Regions from separate parts of the Homo sapiens genome. Here regions 1 and 3 are each linked to region 2. The links come from fine-mapping of genetic effects on gene expression. A gene starts in region 2. Each other region holds a variant in brackets. All regions are shown on one strand. Distances are between the middles of the regions. Region 1 overlaps NR2F6 (nuclear receptor subfamily 2 group F member 6). Region 2 holds the start of BABAM1 (BRISC and BRCA1 A complex member 1). Region 3 overlaps UNC13A (unc-13 homolog A).

The links. PIP is the estimated chance that this variant, and not a neighbour inherited with it, causes the effect.
Region 1: its variant is fine-mapped to the expression of BABAM1 in whole blood (TOPMed, PIP 0.98).
Region 3: its variant is fine-mapped to the expression of BABAM1 in putamen (GTEx, PIP above 0.99).

The regions. Positions count from the first base shown.
Region 1 is chr19:17,238,794-17,242,929 of GRCh38, forward strand. It overlaps NR2F6 (nuclear receptor subfamily 2 group F member 6), which reads right to left. Exons shown (of 4, transcript NM_005234.4): 2 at 1,878-1,972. Among named protein-coding and RNA genes, the nearest start is that of NR2F6, 5.1 kb to the right of the region's middle. RefSeq lists a silencer at 462-640. The variant G/A (reference allele first, on the strand shown) is at 1,838.
Region 2 is chr19:17,264,892-17,269,008 of GRCh38, forward strand. BABAM1 (BRISC and BRCA1 A complex member 1) reads left to right here and starts at 2,552. Exons shown (of 9, transcript NM_014173.4): 1 at 2,552-2,636; 2 at 3,903-4,117. The coding sequence starts at 3,916. RefSeq lists enhancers at 1,602-2,061, 2,322-2,821, 2,329-3,040.
Region 3 is chr19:17,673,222-17,677,357 of GRCh38, forward strand. It overlaps UNC13A (unc-13 homolog A), which reads right to left. Exons shown (of 44, transcript NM_001080421.3): 2 at 2,791-2,820; 3 at 1,436-1,535. Among named protein-coding and RNA genes, the nearest start is that of UNC13A, 13 kb to the right of the region's middle. RefSeq lists an enhancer at 3,862-3,931. The variant G/A (reference allele first, on the strand shown) is at 2,367.

The DNA.
Region 1 (4,136 bases), 26 kb before region 2:
ATGGTGGCTCATTCCTGTAATCCCAGTAGTTTGGGAGGCCAAGGTGGGAGGGTCGCTTCAAGCTAGGAGTTCGAGACCAGCCTGGGCAACATAGTGGGACTCTGTCTCTAGAAAATAAAAAAAGCTGCCGGGTGGGGTGGCTCATGCCTATAATCCGAGCACTTTGGGAGGCTGAGGCGAGCGGATCACCTGGGGTCAGGAGTTGGAGACTCCAGCCTGGCCAACACGGTGAAACACCATCTCTATTAAAAATACAAAAATTAGGCCAGGCGCGGTGACTCACGCCTGTAATCCCAACACTTTGGGAGGCCGAGGCGGGCAGATCACGAGATCAGGAGATCGAGACCATCCTGGCCAACATAGTGAAACTCCATCTCTATTAAAAATACAAAAATTAGCTGGGCGTGGTGGCATGTGCCTGTAATCCCAGCTACTCAGGAGGCTGAGGCAGGAGAATCGCTTGAACCAGGGAGTCAGAGGTTGCAGTGAGCCGAGATGGCACCACAGCACTCCAGCCTGGCAACAGAGCGAGACTCTGTCTCAAAAACAAAACAAAACAAAATACAAAAATTAGGTGGGCGTGCCGGGCGCGGTGGCTTACGCCTGTAATCCCAGCACTTTGGGAGGCTGAGGCAGGCAGATCACGAGGTCAGGAGATCGAGACCATCCTGGCTAACATGGTGAAACCCCGTCTCTACTAAAAATACAAAAATATCCGGGCGAGATGGCAGGCGCCTGTAGTCCCAGCTACTCCGGAGGCTGAGGCAGGAGAATGGCGTGAACCCAGGGGGCGGAGCCTGCAGTGAGCCGAGATCATGCCACTGCACTCCAGCCTGGGCGACAGAGCAAGACTCAGTCTCAGAAAAAAAAAAAAAATTAGCTGGGCGTGTTGGCCCGTATCTGTAGTCCCAGCTACTCGGGAGGCTGAGGCAGGACAATCACTTGAACCCGGGAGGCGGAGGCTGCAGTGAGCTGAGATCACACCACTGCACTCCAGCCTGGAAGATGGAGCGAGACTCCATCTCAAATAAAAATAAAAATAAATAAAGAAAATAAGGAAAAAAAAACTTCAAAGCAGGGGAGGCTCAGGTTAGACATTAGAAAGAACTGCCAGCCTGGCCCACGACACAGTCCCCAGAGGAACCTGAAACCCAGCACAGGAGATCTCGTCCAATAGGCTAGATTCTATTCCTGAACCCCAGAAATCCATGCAGAAATCTCTGGGTTCTACTTGAATTCTAAGGGGGTTTGGCAGAGTTCTAGGCCCAGCAGCCCAGAATACGCCCGTCCACCTGGGTCCCCTGAGCAGAGACAGCTGGGCCTCACTCTTGCTCCCAGCGCCCGGGGTCAGAAGAAAGGGTAAGCTGCCCTTTGCCTTAATCGGGCAGAGTTCCTGCCTTGGGCAAACAAAAAGCATGGGTGAAGGGTGGAGGAGAAACAAATCAAATAAAAAAAAAAATCCTTGTTCAGAACGCGGTGGCCGCGCTAGCAGACAAGAGGTCACCAAGGTGTCAGGGCCAGGGAACTGGCCTCTGAGGCTGGAGTCGGGGGTAATTGGGGAAGGCAGCTCCTGCAAGAGAATGGGGCTGGGGAAAGTCCCTTGTGGGGCGTCCCTGGCCTCTTCAGCTCCACGGCAGCAACCAGGGGGCCACGGATCCTAATTGGATTCCTCCAGCCTAGGGCCAGACTGCAGCCCACGGGATCAAGGGATCAGTGGTAATGAGGTTAGCAGGCGCCGGCCCCCACCCTGTGAGGCACCCAGACCCCTGTGAAAGGGAGGGGTGAAAGGGAGGGGAAAAAGGGGAGGAAGAAGCTGTTTGTTCACCCCGGCTCCAGC[G/A]GCTGTGATCGTCCCCAGTGTGTCCCCAGCACGTACTCACCCTCCTTCCTCATGCCCACCCGGAAGCACTTCTTGAGACGGCAGTACTGGCACTGGTTCCGGTGGTGCTGGTCGATCTGGCAGTCACGGTTGGACCTGGGGGCACACAGAAGCCAGGGCTCCCTGAGACCCCCATATCCTCCTCCCCGAACCAGCCTATGAGCCGCCTTTGGAGGCTGCCCCTCAGAAATACTAGTAGGGGCCCTCTAGACTGGAGAGGTAGCCCCAAAGGGGTACAGGAGCTCAGCTTGCAGGTCTGCAAACCAGACAGGATAACCCGGATGAGTGGTGATGGATGAAGAGGAATCTGTGGAAAAGCAGATGAACACCCCAGGGAGGGCACATTGGCATGGGTTTTGAAGGATGAATAGGAGTTCTCCAGGTGAATGGCGGGGTGATCCCAGAGAGAGGGTACAGCCAGAGCAAAAGGGTTGAAATACACAAATATGGAGGCCTAAAGAGTTTCATTTTATTTGGTCACTGTCAGGCTGAGCAGGGTCATTGTCCCCAAAAAGATGTGAAGGCAAAGAGGACATGGTCAGAGAGCTGGACTTTGTGAATTAACTAGGGGTCAGGCCAGGGGCTAGTGGTCTGTGGGGTCATAGCATTGTGGGGCCCCAGCATTATCACCCGCACAATGCCCACCCCAAGGAATGAGGAAGTAAACAAAGTCACTCTGGTCCTCAGCCCTGAAGGCCCCACACCTACGCTCTTCCGAGAGGACCACCCAACCCCTATGCAAGCTGGAGATTTTCCTGGTCAGCCCTCAGTGAATGCCGTTGCCTCTTGCAGGGATGAGACAGGTGGCCCCACCCTGAGAGGTGGTGAGCTCCCCATCCTGGGTCAGCCCCCAAGCAGGAAGGTCCAGGCCTTATTCTTCAAATGTCCCCAGAACCTTCTCCCCTTGGCCCCTGCCCTTGGACTCCCCTGGTCTCTTGCCACCAGGAGCTGGGGGCTCTCCAAGGCCTGGGCCTGGAGCAACTACCCCTGGGGTTCCAGCTGGACACCCAGGGGACACACAGAGACAGTCACAGAGTAGAACCACCACTTAAGGGAATTAAACAGATGCATCTCTGCAGTGGCTCACGCCTGTAATCCCAGCACTTTGGGAGGCGGGGGAGGGTGGATCACCTGAGGTCAGTTCAAGACCAGCCTGGCCAACATGGTGAAACCCCGTCTCTACTAAAAATACAAAAATGAGCTGGGCGTGGTGGCGCATGCCTGTAATCCCAGCTACTTGGCAGGCTGAGGAAGGAGAATCGCTTGAACTGGGGAGGTGGAGGTTGCAGTGAGCCAAGATTGACCCACTGCATTCCAGCCAGGGTGACAGAGTGAGACTCTGTCTCAAAAAAAAAGAAAAAAAAAAAGGCTGGGTGCAGTGGCTCATGCCTGTAATCCCAGCACTTTGGGAGGCCGAGGCGGGCGGATCACCTGAGGTTGGGAGTTTGAGACCAGCCTGAACAACATAGAGAAAACCTGTCTCTACTAAAAATACAAAATTAGCCGGGCATGGTGGCGCATGCCTGTAATCCCAGCTATTTGGGAGGCTGAGGCAGGAGAACCGCTTGAACCCGGGAGGCAGAGGTTGCAGTGAGTTGAGATCACGCCATCGCACTCCAGCCTGGGCAACAAGAGTGAAACTCCGTCTCAAAAACAAAACAAAACAAAACAAAACAGATGAATCTCAGCTGCAGATACCCAGCCCTGCCCCTCAGGTGGCGACTGCCCCACTGAGCCTCGGTTTCCTCATCTGAAAATGGGAGGTCAGATATTGCCCTATCATATGGGATGGACTGGGTCAGAGGGGTTCACGGGGGACAGTGCCAAGACCCAGAGCCCAGCCGGAGAACCCAACTTAGGAAAGCTGAGGATCTGCGCCCACTCCCCCGTACCCCCCCTCCACCACTGCCTGGGTCCTGCAGCACCAGCCACTGAGCCCCTGGGAAGAGGCCCCACTAGGGCAGAGGGAGCTCAGGCAGAACCAGAACAAAGCCCAGCGGCTGGGTGGTGGGAGGGTCCAGGGCAGCCGGGTGGAAACGGCCTGGCCTGGGGCGGCCCTGCAGGCAGGCAGAGGCCCAGCTCAGGGGCCCCTGACCTCAGGGGAGGCCCTGAACCTTCAGTCTCAACTTCCCCAGCTGTGGAATTGGGACAGATCCATCCCTCCAAGGAGGGAAACAGTTAAGTTCTTCCTGTTATCCCACCTAAAGAGTGCAAGCTTTTTTGCCCAACCCCATGGCCCAACTCAGCTTCCTCCCTGGGC
Region 2 (4,117 bases):
GACTCCCAAGGTTTCAGCCCCTCCTCTTCTCAGCCTCCAAACTCATGGCCCTTCTAGCTCTGACTCTTGGATTTTATTTCTCAAGAGCTAGAATGGGCCGAGCACCATGGCTCACACCTGTAATCCCAGCACTCTGGGAAGCTGAGGAAGACAGATCGCTTGAGTCCAAGAGTTTAAGACAAGCCTGGGCAACATGGCGAGACCCCCGTCTTTACAAAAAATATAAAAATTAGCCAGGAGTAGTGGCGTACGCTTGTAGTCCCAGCTACTCAGGAGGCTGAGGTGGGAGGATTGCTTAACACCTGGAAGTTGAGGCTGCAGTGAGCCGTGGTCACGTCACTGCACTCCATTCTGGGTAATAAGGCAAGACCCTGTCTCAAAAAGAAAGAAAAAAAAAGAGCTAGAATGTTCCCGTGAGCTGATGGTTTTTATTTGGCTCCCCTGTGAACTTTTCTTCTCTGCCTGTCTCTTCATTGTGGGCTGACAGTTCTCTTTTTTTTGAGATGGAGTCTTGCTCTGTCGCCTAGGCTAGAGTGCAGTGGCGCAACCTTGGCTCATTGCAACCTCCACCTCCTGGGTTCAAGAAATTCTCCTGCCTCAGCCTCCCGAGTAGCTGGGATTACAAGTGCCCACCACAATGCCCAGCTAATTTTTGTATTTTTAGTAGAGACAGGGTTTCACCATGCTGACCAGGCTGGTCTCGAACTCCTGACCTCAAGTGATCTGCCAGCCTCGGCCTCCCAAAGTGCTGGGATTACAGGCGTGAGCCACCGCACCCGGCTAGGGATGGGTTTTTCCCATGTTGGCGAGGCTGGTCTTAAACTCCTGACCTCAGGTGATCCACTCACCTCAGCCTCCCAAAGTGTTGGGATTACAGGCATGAGCCACCGACCCCACCAGCCCCAGAAACATTTAAGAGCCACTTGAAGCCTCAGTTTATTTATTTATTTTATTTTATTAGATGGAATCTTGTTCTGCCACGCAGGCTGGAGTGCAGTGGTGCGATCTCGGCTCACTGCAACCTCCACCTCCTGGGTTCAAGCAATTCTTCTGCCTCAGCCTTCTGAGTAGCTGTGATTATAGGTGCGCGCCACCACACCCAGCTAATTTTTTGTATTTTTAGTAGAGACGGGGTTTCACCATATTGGCCAGGCTGATCTCTAACTCCTGACCTCGTGATCCACCCACCTCAGCCTCCCAAAATGCTGGGATTATAGGTGTGAGCCACTGCCCCCAACTCCTCAGTTGTTTTTTTTTTTTTGAGGGTCAAAGAAGCCGGCCACATTGGCCAGGCTCTAATTCGAGAATAGCCGGAGGGGCTGTGTAAGGTGAGCTTTGAAGCATAAAGAACTTGCCAGAAAAGCAACAGGAGGAACAGCATTCCAGGCAGAAGGAACTTCCTGGGCAAAGGCTTAGAGCCTTCAAAGAGCCGCTCTAGGTGACACAGCGAGACTCCATCTCAAAAAAACAAAAACAAAAACGAAAAAAAAAAACACAACAAAAACCCAGCTCTACTAAAAATACTATATATATCTCAGCCGGGCCTGGTGGTGCATGCCTGTAATCCCAGCTACTTGGGAGGCTGAGGCAGGAGAATTGCTCGATCCCTGGAGGTGGAGGTTGCAGTGAGCCGAGATTGAGCCACTGCACTCCAGCCTGGGCGACAGAGCAAGACTCTTGTCTCAAAAAAATAAAAATAAATAAATAAATACTTCTGGGGCTAAGGGGGAAGTGTGCACTAAGAAGACAACGGCAGCCTGGGCGACAGAGTGAGACTCCATCTAAAAAATAAAAATAAAAAAAAAAGGAAGGAAGCCTAGGGTAGTCTGATGCGGTGGTCCTCGCCTGTAGTCCCAGCTACTTGAGCGATCGCTTGGCTGTAGTGACTAGCCATGATCGCGTGACTGCAGTCTAGTTTGGGCGACAGAGCGATACCCTGTCTCTAAAAATAAGAAAAAAAAAAGCCATGAAAAAAGAGGTAGGCTTGAAATAGGCCCGACTTAGCTTCGCTCCACCTACAGTGACCCAATAAGACCAGAGTAAGTATTTTTTGATTCATGCAAATATATGTAAAATAAGGAACAAGAATTAAGTAATTGGGAAGGGCCCTGGATGCTCAGGCCACACCCACATGGGAATACCTGCCCCACATGGAGGCTCAGGCCAGCTCCACCAATCACCAATCAGCTCCTCCTCTTTCCCTAAATCGGCCTTCTCCGTCCCTCTTAGCCTATCACATTGCAAGCTCCACCTCTATTCCACGTTTCAGCCTATCACGGTAGAAGCACTGACTATTGTAGTCTGATTCGGCCAAAAACAAAAATTCACTAATTTTTTTAATCCAATCACATTTCATACTTTGCTCCAGTGTAGCCAATCACATTCCAGGTCCCGCCGCACCCAGCTCCAGGCAGCTCTCACTCCAAACCCCACCCCCAACCCAGTTTCAGCCTATCAGTTTCCAAGTTCTTTCTAGCCTCAACCAGTTTCTGTCTCTGCTTGTTCTGCAGCCCGCTGAACTACATTTCCCAGGAGGCGTCGGGGCTGCGCCGTACAACTTCCGGCTGTAAAGATGGCGGCTTCCTAGTGAGTCGGCGGCTGATTTAGAAGGAGGTTCAGGCTACGGTGAGCCGAAGGTGGGTGGTGAAAGCGTGTGGGGCCCGTTCCTAGGGGCCCAGCTCCCTTTGCCCCAAGAGATCCAGCTCCTCGCCTTTCCTGGGGCTTCCGCCTTTATTTCTGGTTTCTCCTGCAGTGTAGCCTCCATCCTTCTTGCTGCCGCTAAAGCCTTGTTTTTCTTAGAGGTGTGGGGACTGCAAGGCGCTCAAAGACCATCTTGGGAAGCCCGTGCCTATTTCCCAGATAGACAAACTGCTCCATTCGCGTCCTGTTTCTCTCCAAGGGGAACCACAGTACTAATATTTTGCTTCTCCCTCATGCAGACACCCGCTAGGGACGAGGGTGTCCTAGAGGTTATTATTCCCTTATTCACCAAGACATTTTCAGTTTTAGGTAACAGAAAACCCTACTCAATCTGGCTTAAGGAAGAAAAGGAAGTTGGTGGCTTATAGATTGGGTCTAACAGGAGCTGGGTCCAGGTGGTCAGAATTCGATCTGCAGTTTTCTCGGTGGAGACCATTTCGCTTTTTACCGAGGCAAAAGGGGCCCCTCACAGCTCTCAACTTTATTCTACCAGCTCTGCAACTCTAATGAGAGTCTCTTTTCCTTGATGACACTGCTAGAAGTTGCAGAGCTGCCACTCAATGGCCTGATTTGGGTCATGTGCCCATCCCTGAGCCATTTTCAGTGGCCAGAGAGCTGGGATGTGCTCACTGGCCGAGTAGGGGCATGGGGCTAGCACTACGTTAAAAAAAAAAAGAGGAAAAAAGAGGGGGGACTGTTATCTTATGTCGGAGTGGCTGCTCGGCTGAGAGGTGTAAAAGGCAGCCATTCTGCAGCTGAGGAAAGTGACTCCCTAAGAGGAGTGACTCATCATCAGTAAGCGGCTCATCGCCCCTCTTCCTTCTTAGTAACCAATCTTTTTTTTTTTTTTTTTTTTGAGACGGAGTTTCGCTCTTTTTGCCCAGGATGGAGTGCAGTGGCGGGATCTCGGCTCACCGCAGCCTCCCCTCCCGGGTTCAAGCGATTCTCCTGCCTCAGCCTCCCGAGTAGCTGGGATTATCCGCATGCGCCACCACGCCCGGCTAATTTTGTATTTTTAGTTGAGACGGGGTTTCTCCATGTTGGTCAGGCTGGTCTCGAACTTCCAACCTCAGGTGATCCACCTGCCTCGGCCTCCCAAAGTGCTGGGATTACAGGCATGAGCCACCGTGCCCGACCGTAACCAAATGTTTTTAAAACTCCAAGGGGAGGATTCTGGCTTCCCCTGTCCGTGTTCCATCTAGCCACACAGGAGCCATGGAAGTGGCAGAGCCCAGCAGCCCCACTGAAGAGGAGGAGGAGGAAGAGGAGCACTCGGCAGAGCCTCGGCCCCGCACTCGCTCCAATCCTGAAGGGGCTGAGGACCGGGCAGTAGGGGCACAGGCCAGCGTGGGCAGCCGCAGCGAGGGTGAGGGTGAGGCCGCCAGTGCTGATGATGGGAGCCTCAACACTTCAGGAG
Region 3 (4,136 bases), 410 kb after region 2:
TGGTGCATGTCTGTAATTCCAGCTACTCGGGAGGCTGAGGCAGGAGAATTGCTTGAACCCAGGAGGCGGAGGTTGCGGTGAGCCGAGATCACGCCATTGCACTCCAGCCTGGGCAACAAAAGCAAAACTCAGTCTCAAAAAAAAAAAAAAAAGTATATATATATCTGATATATATATCTGTTGGCTGGGATTGGTGGCTCCTGGCTCATGCCTATAATCCCAGCACTTTGGGAGGCCGAGGCGGGTGGATCACCTGAGGTTAAAAGTTCAAGACCAGCCTGGCCAACATGGTGAAACCCGGTCTTTACTAAATACACAAAAATTAGCCGGGCATGGTGGCACGCACATGTAGTCCCAGCTACTCGGGAGGCTAAGGCAGGAGAATAGCTTGAACCCAGGAGGCAGAGGTTGCAGTGAGCCGAGATTGCACCACTACACTCCAGCCTGGGCCACAGAGTGAGGCTCTGTCTCAAAACAAAACAAAAAAAAAAGGAAAAAAATTCCATTGGCCAGGCATGGTGGCTCACATCTATAATCCCAGCACCTTGGGAGGCTGAGGTGGGCGGATCACCTGAGTCCAGGAGTTTGAGACTAGCCTGGCCACCATAGTGAAACACCATCTCTACTTAAAACACAAAAATTAGCCGGGTGTGGTGGCACACGCTTGTAATCCCAGCTAGTTGGGAGGCTGAGGCAGGAGGATCACTTGAACCTGGGAGGTGGAGGTTGAAGTGAGCCGAGATTATGCCACTGTACTCCAGCCTGGGCAACAGAGTGAGGCTCTGCCTCAAAACAAACAAACAAACAAACAAAATTGGTGGCAAGGCCTGGGAAGGCATGATGCCCTGAAATTGTAGCTTGGAGGTAGTGGTCAGGGAGGGCTTCACTGAGGAGGTGACACAAGCTGAGACCTGAAGGAGAAGAGCCAGCTGGGGACAGGAGAGCAAGTGCAAGGGCCCTGGGGCAAGAACAAGCTGGGAAGTGTTGGAGAAAGGGGCAGAGGTGGGTGTGGCTGGGGCAGGTGAGGGAGATAGAGCGAGAACCTGGTGGGAATCACGGGGAAGGCTGTGGGTTTTATTGTGAGGTCGATGAGCCACGGACAAGTTTGGAACATGGGAGCGACAGGATGTGATTTGCAGTTTTAAAAATATCCCCCTGGCTGCCTGGAGGAGAACAGATTGTAGGAGGTGGATGGCACAGGAGGCCAGGGCGGAGGCTGGCGGGCAGCAGGGACTTGGCTGGTGGCTGCGGAGACCAAGGGAAGTGATTGGATTGGGGATGTGTTTTGGAGGTGAAGGTGATAAGGTGGACAGGGGAAGAGGGAGGACAGAGGGGAGTCACCCGGGATTCCCCAGTGTCCAGCTCTGCCCTGAGGGGCCAGCGAGGTGCTGGGCTATGCCAGGGAGTGAGGTCATGCCAGACGCTGCAGACTCACAACATGAAATCCTGCTCCCAGCTGGGCTGGCTGCCCCGCACCGCGATGGTCGTGCTCTTGACATTCTGCACTTTCAGGGTCACGTACGTGTTGAATTTCTCTGTGGCAGTGAGAGTAGGGGTCAGCGCTGGGGCTCAGGGACTCTCCAATGCCCCTTCCCAAGCTCTAGACCATCTGCTGTGATCCCCTCAGGAATTTCTGGGCCACTCACCCCCTAACCCACAACCCCACCCTCAGGGCACAAGGGAGGGGCCTCAGTGTGGGGAGACGTGGAATTTTGGGATACTTCATCCAGCTGCTTCGAAATGACCATGCCATTGGTTTTCAGCTAAAAAGACTGAGGTCCCAGAAAAGGGGAACAAAATTGACTGTAAGAAACCCCCTTTGCAGGCTGGGTGCAGTGGCTCGCGCCTATAATGCCAGCACTTTGGGAGGTCAAGGGGGGAGGATTGCTTGAGCCCAGCAGTTCAAGACCAGCCTGGGCAACTTGGCAAAACCCTATCTCTACTAAAAAATACAAAAAAATAATTAGCTGGGTGCAGTGGTGCACGCCTGTGGTCCCAGCTACTTGGAAGGCTGAGGTGGGAGGATTGCTTGAGCCTGGGAGGTTGAGGCTGTAGTAAAACATGATTGCACCACGGCACTCCAGCCTCAAAAAATAAAAATTTTAAATAAAAATAATAATAATAAAAAGGCAGGGCACGGTAGCTCACGCCTGCAATCCTAGCACTTTGGGAGGCCGAGGCGGGCGGATCATTTAAGGTCAGAAGTTTGAGACCAGCCTGGCCAACATGGCGAAACCCCATCTCTACTAAAAATAAAAAAATTAGCCGGGCGTGGTAGAGGGCGCCTGTAATCCCAGCTACTTGGGAGGCTGAGGCAGGAGAATTGCTTGAACCCAGAGGCAGAGGTTGCAGTGAGCCGAGATCAC[G/A]CCACTGCACTCCAGCCTGGGCAACAGAAGGAGACTCTGTCTCAAAAAAAAAAAAAAAAGAAGAAGAAGAAAAGAAAGAAACTCCTTTCGCCTCTCTGAGCCTCATTTTTCCCACCTGTAGCCCCATCTAAGAGTCCCCATTCTACCTCTTAGGACCCTGGGAAGAGCCACTGGCTCAGGGCAAGCCCCACCCCTTACAGACTCTCCAAGGATGGCTGGGGAGACCCGGGGACCCCCATACAAACTGCAGGGACCCCAGGCCAATGGCTGCCCCTCCCCCTATTTAATCTTCTGACCCCTCTCCTGATGCTCAGAAGACATAAAGCCCAACTCTAAGTCTGGGCTGGGACCCCCTCCCAGTCTCTCCAAGAGACAGACAGACAGACAGACAACACGGGACAGGACAGCAAGAGAAGCCACTTACCTTGGGCACCATCAAACTTGGCTTTTTTGACTGTGGAGAGAGACAGAGATAGGGAAGGGAGGTGGGGAGAGATGTGGGGAGGAGGAGGCAGAGATACGGAGAGATTCAGAGACACACCAAGATGGAGACATAAGGAGAGAGACACAGAGGAGAGACAGGCAAAGATAAAAAGCAAAAGAGACAGATGTTAAAAAAGAAAGATAGAAGCAATGTCAGAGACAGAGACAAGGGGAGGAGGAGAGGTAGGAAAGAGGAGGCAGGGATGAGAGGGAGAGAGAGAAGCCATCAGACAGATGAGCACAGGCAACCCTAGAATGGAAGGAAATTTGGACCCTGAGAGCATTCCCTGCCCCTCCCTCTCCCTGCATCCCCTGTCCCCATCAAACTCCCCAAGCTCCCAACTAGCTGTGCCTTTACCCACAATTGAACAAGATTAGAAAGAAAGAGCTGGGCAGATGGTGGGAGAGGCCTCCTACAAGAAGCCCTCCAGGATTGCCCCAGAAGAAGAGGGGAAGTTGAGGAGGTGGAGAAGAAGAAGGCGAGGATAAAGACAATCTCTGATGACTCCACCAGCCCCGACAGGTCAGCAAGACCTCTCCCTTGATTGTCCAGCTCAGTCTGCAATGTCAAATGCTCCCAGGGTTTGGGGAAGCCTCAAAGAAGGCTGGGTGAGTTGGGACAAAGCAACCCAGAGAGCTGGCTCTCAAAATGCATGTGGAGGGCGAGGCACGGTGGCTCACACCTATAACCCCAGCACTTTAGGTGGCTGAAGCAGGTGGATCACCTGAGGTCAGGAGTTCAAGACCAGCCTGGCCAACATGGTGAATCCTTGTCTCTACTAAAAATACAAAAATTTGCCAGGTGTGGTGGCAGGCGCCTATAGTCTCAGCTACTTGGGAGGCTGAGGTAGGAGAATCACTTGAACCCAGGAGGCAGAGATTGCAGTGAGCCAAGATCATGCCACTGCACTCCAGCCTGGGCAGCAGAGTGAGATTCTTGTCTCAACAACAACCAAAAGTAATGTACAGGGAGACACTTGGGTCCTGGCTGGAGGGTTGACAGAGATTGTCCAGCCCCACCTGCTTGTGGGAGGTGTAACCTGAATATATGTCAGGCACCCCACTGAGGTCCAGTCTTCTCACATTTCACATAATCTCACAGCCCCAAGAGATTCAAAGCCATGTCGCCCCCTCCTGGCTCTTCTCAACAGGTATTCAGTTTCCATTGCCAACACCTCTCACACCTTGCTTTTGTCCCCCACATCTTTTTCCTCCATTAATTCTCTACTCCCACCCCCAATCTTCTCCCACACTGAGCTCTTCCCTCCCTTTCCTTTCTTTCTTTTC